Linked DNA regions of Homo sapiens: region 1 is linked to region 2. Evidence: fine-mapped expression QTL. A gene starts in region 2. The other region holds a variant in brackets. All regions are shown on one strand. Distances are between the middles of the regions.

Region 1 (2,919 bases), 420 kb after region 2:
AAAAGGGAGAGCAGGCACTTTATTAGAATATAGCCAAACATGACAAGTGTAGAACAAAATGGGAGCCAGACTTCCTTGAATATACTATCTTGAGATTATGAAGGCAGTGAATATCTTAGTCGTGATAGCCGTCAACACGTCTGTCTCTAATCACACACCTCAAACCTCGACTGGTTGCTCTTTGGTTGTTGTGCCCAGCTATCATACTGGGAATTCCCTTTTCTCTATCCAGTCTATAATTGCCTTTTCCTATATCTCATTCACATGCTTGTGGATCACGTCCTCCAGTAATTCATGAAATGGGGTACAGGGGATGTAGACTTTTTGGGAACTTGGATGTCTGGAAATATATTCTACTCTTATGTTGGATTGACAGCTTGACTGAATATAGAATTCTTGGTTGTAGATTATTTTACCTCAGAAGTTTAAAGGGTTTCTTCCATTTGTTTCCATTTCCAATTTTGCTTTTTGGGAATCTGAAGCCATCCTGATTGCTGATCATTTGTATCTGATTTTTCTTTGGAAGTCTGTAGAATCTGTCTTCACTGTTCTGAAACTTCCATTTTACTGAGTCTTTTAAATCAGAAGGTGTATTAGGGTTCTCTAGAGGGATGGAACTAATAGGCTAGATCTGTATATAAAGGGGAATTTATTAAGTATTAACTCACAATCACAAGGTCCCACAATAGGCCGTCTGCAAGCTGAGGAGCAAGGACAACCAGTACAGTGCCAAAACTGAAGAACTTGGAGTTCAATGTTTGAGGGCAGGAAGCATCCAGCACAGGAGAAAGATGTAGGCTGGGAGGCTAGGCCAGTCTAGTCTTTTCACATTTTTTTTTTCTGCCTGCTTTAGATTCGATCTGCGCTGGCAGGTGACTAGGTGGTGCCCACCCAGATTAAGGATGAGTCTGCCTTCCCCAGCCCACTAACTCAAATGTTAATCTCCTCTGGTAACACCCTCTCAGACACACCCAGGATCAATAACTTTGCATCCTTCTTTCCAATCAGGTTGACACTCAGTATTAACCATCACAAGTCTACCTCTTGTCAACTTCAACCCATACCCATCTCCTGAGATCATACATAATCTTCAAATAAAGACAATAATAAGGTCATAATTATGCCTAACGTAATACAACTATCCTTAATACAACCAGAAATGCACCAATCCCCAACCCAAATACTATTACATAAAGTTAACAATTCTTAAATGCTGATGCGAAGTCAATAAATCTTATGTCACATGATGAAGGAAAAAGTAAATAAAATGAAGATATCTTCTTAGTACACGTGTGTACATGCACAAACATGTTTTTAACAAAAGAAGGAGGAAATACTAATGACAATTACAGTCCTCATTTCTGCAGCTGGTCACGTGGTCATAGCTGGTATTGATGACTACATTCTTCTACTACCCATTCTGTATTCCCTTTTTCTTCAGCAAGCACCTCAGCAGGTCATGGTTTTTTCCTGGTGGAGTGACCCAAACCTTCATTCCTGAAGGGTCTGGGCCATTTGTAGTCCTGCCTGGATTAGGCTGTTGTAGTTTCCCATTGACCTGAATCACAGGACATGGTAATACTAAGAGACACCCTAATAGATCTCCTGTATTCCATGCCTACTCTTCCTTACCTCTGTTGTGGAGTAGTAGAGCATACACGATCTTCTGGAGAACTTTACCCCAGCCCTTCAACGTATTGTCACCTAGTTGTTGTAAT[T/C]GTGACTTCAAAAGGCCATCCCACCGTTATATCAATCCAACTGCTTCAGGATGATGAAGAACATGGTGAGACCAGTGAATTCCATGAGCATGCGCCCACTGCTGCACTTCTTTATCTGTAAAGTGAGTGCCTCTCTCTCTGTAAAGAGAGGCAATGCTGTGTGGAATACCATGACAGTGGATAAGGCATGCTATGAGTCCATGGATGGTAGTCTTGGCAGAAGCATTGCATGGAGGATAGGCAAACCCATATCCAGAGTGAGTGTTTATTCCAGTGAGGAGAAACCTCTGCCTTTTCCATGATGGAAGAGGTTCAATGTAATCAACCTGCCAGCAGGTAGCTGGCTGATCACCCTGAGAAGTGGTGCCATATCGAGGTCTCAGTGTTGGTCTCTGCTGCTGGCAAATTGGGCACTCAGCAGTGGCTGTAGTCAGGTCAGCTTTGGTGAGTGGAAGTCCATGTTGCTGAGTCCATGCATAACCTTCATTCCTGCCACCATGGCCACTTTGTTCATGGGCCCATTGGGCGACAACAGGGGTGGCTGGGGAAAGAGGCTGAGTGGTGTCCACAGAACGGGTCATCCTATCCACTTGATTATTAAAATCCTCCTCTGCTGAGGTCACCAGTTGGTGAGCATTCACATGGGATACAAATATCTTTCCAGTTTTTGACCACTCAGAGAGGTCCATCCACATACCTCTTCCCCAAATTTCTTTGTCACCAATTTTCCAATCATGCTTCTTCCAAGTCCCTGACTATCCAGCCAAACTACTGGCAACAGCCCATGAATCAGTATATAATTGCACATCTGACCATTTCTCCTTTCATGCAAAGTGCACAAGCAAGTGCACTGTTCAAAGTTCTGCCCACTGGGAAAATTTTCCCTCACCACTTTCAGGGATGTCCTAGGAAGGGGCTGTCCTTCAGGGATGTCCTAGAAAGGCAGCTGTCCACTTTTGGGTGGTGCCTCCATATTGTGCAGAACCATCTGTGAACCGGGCTCTAGTCTTCTCTTTTTCTGTCAACTGATCATAGAGAACTCCTCATGAGGCCATTGGTGCAGGCTAGGGGAGAGAAGGCAAGGTGGCAGGAGTCTCCACCTTGGGCATTTGAGCCACTTCCTCATGTAACTTACTTGTGCCTTTAGGACCTGCTTGAGTCCAATCATGTATATACACTTCCATTTGATGATGGATGCTGC
Region 2 (2,919 bases):
ATGTTTTCAAAGAATTTCTAGACCTCTCTGGCTTTGACATTTTTTGTCTCTTAATTGTATTATAAACACCTAGGGATGTGATTCCATAGTTTACGTCCTCCTACACAGGATTAAGGAGGCAGCTGCTTCTTGGGTTTTAGCATATACAAGTTTCTTCAAGGTCTTAAAGGAAAAAAAGTACTTGTTAGGAGGGCTACATGTCACTGGGCAACAGGAACTTTTCAGCTTCATTATAATCCTATAGCACCACCGCTGTATATGTGGTCCTATAAGATTATAATGGAGCTGAAAAGTGCTAGCGAGCTTCTTAACTGGGATAAAAGTTTGTTTGTAAACGTATGTAAATGTATTTACATGTGCTAGCCCAGGGTCAACCTAAAAGGTAGCGAAAGTGTTTAGCCCAGAAGTCTACATAGAAACTAGGGTTGTCTACCTCCATACCACCCTGAATGTCCCCCGATCTCGGAAGCTAAGCAGGGTCAGGCCTGGTTAGTACTTGGATGGGACAATAGGGCTAAGGTGAGTAGATTTAATGCTCCAGGATAACGACCTTTACCGACAGGTCATTGTGTGGCACGTGGCTGTATGTAGTTATTAAAATGTAAATACATATATTTACAAACAAACTTTTTTTCCCAGTTAAGAAGCTCGCTAGCACACAGCATTCTGTTGAAAGCCCCCTTTATTTCGCAGTCCTGAAGGGAGTGAGGGAAGGAAGTAAAAGGGCAGAGGAAATAATGAATGAATGCGAGACGCCGATTGTACAGGGACTTGTTTCCATACTGCTCTCTACCAGAAACGTTCTCAGTTTCCTTCCTTCTGCTGGACATGTTCCAAGGGCCAAAACCTCAAATAATGTGACTTTGTAGATTGGAGAGTGTGTGACCACAGAAAGGAAAGGGAGGCAGCACGTGCCAGCCGGCGACAGAATGTTAAGTCTGCAGCATACTCCACCGCAATGAAACAAATAATTTGTGTATTTCCTCCCCTTCCTTCGCCCAGAGCCACTGTGAGAATGGGCTACAGAAAGTTTCGAGGCAGTAAAGCCAGTTGTTCACCCAGAACATCTGACTGCCATAAAAATTATGGTGACGAGAAAGAACGTTTGCTCAAATGCCGGGGTCGGGTTGAGGGCTGGAGAAAGGTCCCACCCCGCAGCATCTACCTCCCGGGCTCCTCACCATGTGCATCGCCTCCTCCATCCACTTTTCGGTCTCCTCTGCCGACACCGAGCACGCGCCGCTTGCAGCTGGCTTGGGTGCCGCCTTCGCCTCCATACCCAGCCACCACTCAGCTACAGAGCCCGCGGCAGAGGAGGAGCGCGGGCAGCGGAACGCGGCGGGCCCGGGACCCCGTTTCCGGGGGTAGTCTAATGAAAAGGCACTCGGGAGCTATTTCTGAACGGACCTGGGCTTGTCGGACCAGTGAGCGGCGGCGGCTGCGCGGCGGCAGCGGCAGAAAGCGTAGCTGCTTTGCTGTAGTCCACGCCCCCTTGCCGCTCCGGTGACAGTCTCTGCGGAAAGTCACGTTTGTGATTTCGGGAGAGCACAGAACGGGACGACGGCGCTCTTGCTGGGTCATCTGGGCCAGGTGACGAAGAAACAGTTTCCTGGTGAAGCAGTCCCTCACCCCTAGTCAGCCCACACCCCTAGGGCCTAAAGATGCTGAGGTCTGTATGGAATTTTCTGAAACGCCACAAAAAGAAATGCATCTTCCTGGGCACGGTCCTTGGAGGTGGGTGACAACGTGCTTGAAAGGGGGCATTGGGAGAAGGGGGTGGGAGAGGTGACTTCTTCTAAAATAAGGACAGGCCGGGCGATCCTAGTCTGGGATATGTAGAGGGAGTTCGATCAACCATGGGATGAAAAGGGAGGTGGCCAACCTCCAGGGTTCTCCCATCTCTGCAGTTGAGAAATGCCTCTGTGCCCTTTGCCCTGTCACCGACTCTTAACTCTGTTTCTCACCTATCCTTTTTTCTCACGGACCTTTGGAGAACTCATCACAGTTTAAGTTTCTGTTTCAAGGCACCATTCTCTTACAGGAACTTTTTAAAAAAAATTCTGCTTTCCTGTGAGATTCTGCATTTCTCCTTGGCACTCTTGATACTTTGGCTCTCACCCTTCTCAGGAGTTTAATAATAATCTAGGGAAGTTACCTATAGGCTGCACTTCGGGTGGTGGTTAAAGTCGATTTGAATTTTTGAAAACAGCGCAGTTGTCCTAAAGGACTGAAAGATATGGATTAGATAAAGAAAAACAAATCAATATTTTAGCTCTGTTTCTGCCATTTTAGAATACAAACTATGGCAGTAAGAAAAATGCTTGAGGGATGTTGTGCAATCTTCCTCAGGATCTTCAAGGTTGGGATCATTGTAATCTAGCTGACATAACTGAGTTGCACAGGCCCAGAGGAGATTTAGAAACAGATAAGATAAAAATCTTGAGACGCTTTTCCCTCATACAATGCTCATGTGATAATATTCAGGGATTTGAAGGAGGGAATAAAAGTTTTGTGAATTATATGAAAAGGACATCTAGGAACTATAAAAGAGGAAATTTGTTAGAACTTGAGTTTTTGAGAAATAGTCTCATCACTTATTACATGCTATGTTTACAAAAGTACTTAAAATCAAGAACAGAGTTTCCCAAAGAATTTGGTTGGCTTTTCTCTTAGTATTAGATTGTATTCTGTTCTCCCCAAACAATTTGAAATTAACAGTACGTATTAGATTGTATTCTGTTCTCCCCAAACAATTTGCAATTAATACCTTTAGCATCAATAGTTCAGATTTTGGTGATGCTTGAAAGTTTGAAACAGAGTTCTTGTTGCTGAGCCAAGGATGGTGTTTTGCATGTCTCTGAGGTCTATCACACATCAATAATAAGCATATGTAAATTTTGAACACCTTCGAGAAATCCT

Evidence for each region.
Region 1: its variant is fine-mapped to the expression of ADAT2 in cerebellum (GTEx, PIP 0.97).

What each region holds. Positions count from the first base shown.
Region 1 is chr6:143,867,637-143,870,555 of GRCh38, forward strand. The region is part of intron 1 of ZC2HC1B (zinc finger C2HC-type containing 1B); the gene reads left to right. Among named protein-coding and RNA genes, the nearest start is that of ZC2HC1B, 4.6 kb to the left of the region's middle. The variant T/C (reference allele first, on the strand shown) is at 1,719.
Region 2 is chr6:143,449,382-143,452,300 of GRCh38, forward strand. It overlaps ADAT2 (adenosine deaminase tRNA specific 2), which reads right to left and starts at 1,314. Exons shown (of 6, transcript NM_182503.3): 1 at 1,182-1,314. The coding sequence starts at 1,277. PEX3 (peroxisomal biogenesis factor 3) reads left to right here and starts at 1,424. Exons shown (of 12, transcript NM_003630.3): 1 at 1,424-1,734. The coding sequence starts at 1,662. It also overlaps the pseudogene RNA5SP221. RefSeq lists enhancers at 320-1,302, 1,105-1,264 and silencers at 345-424, 485-564.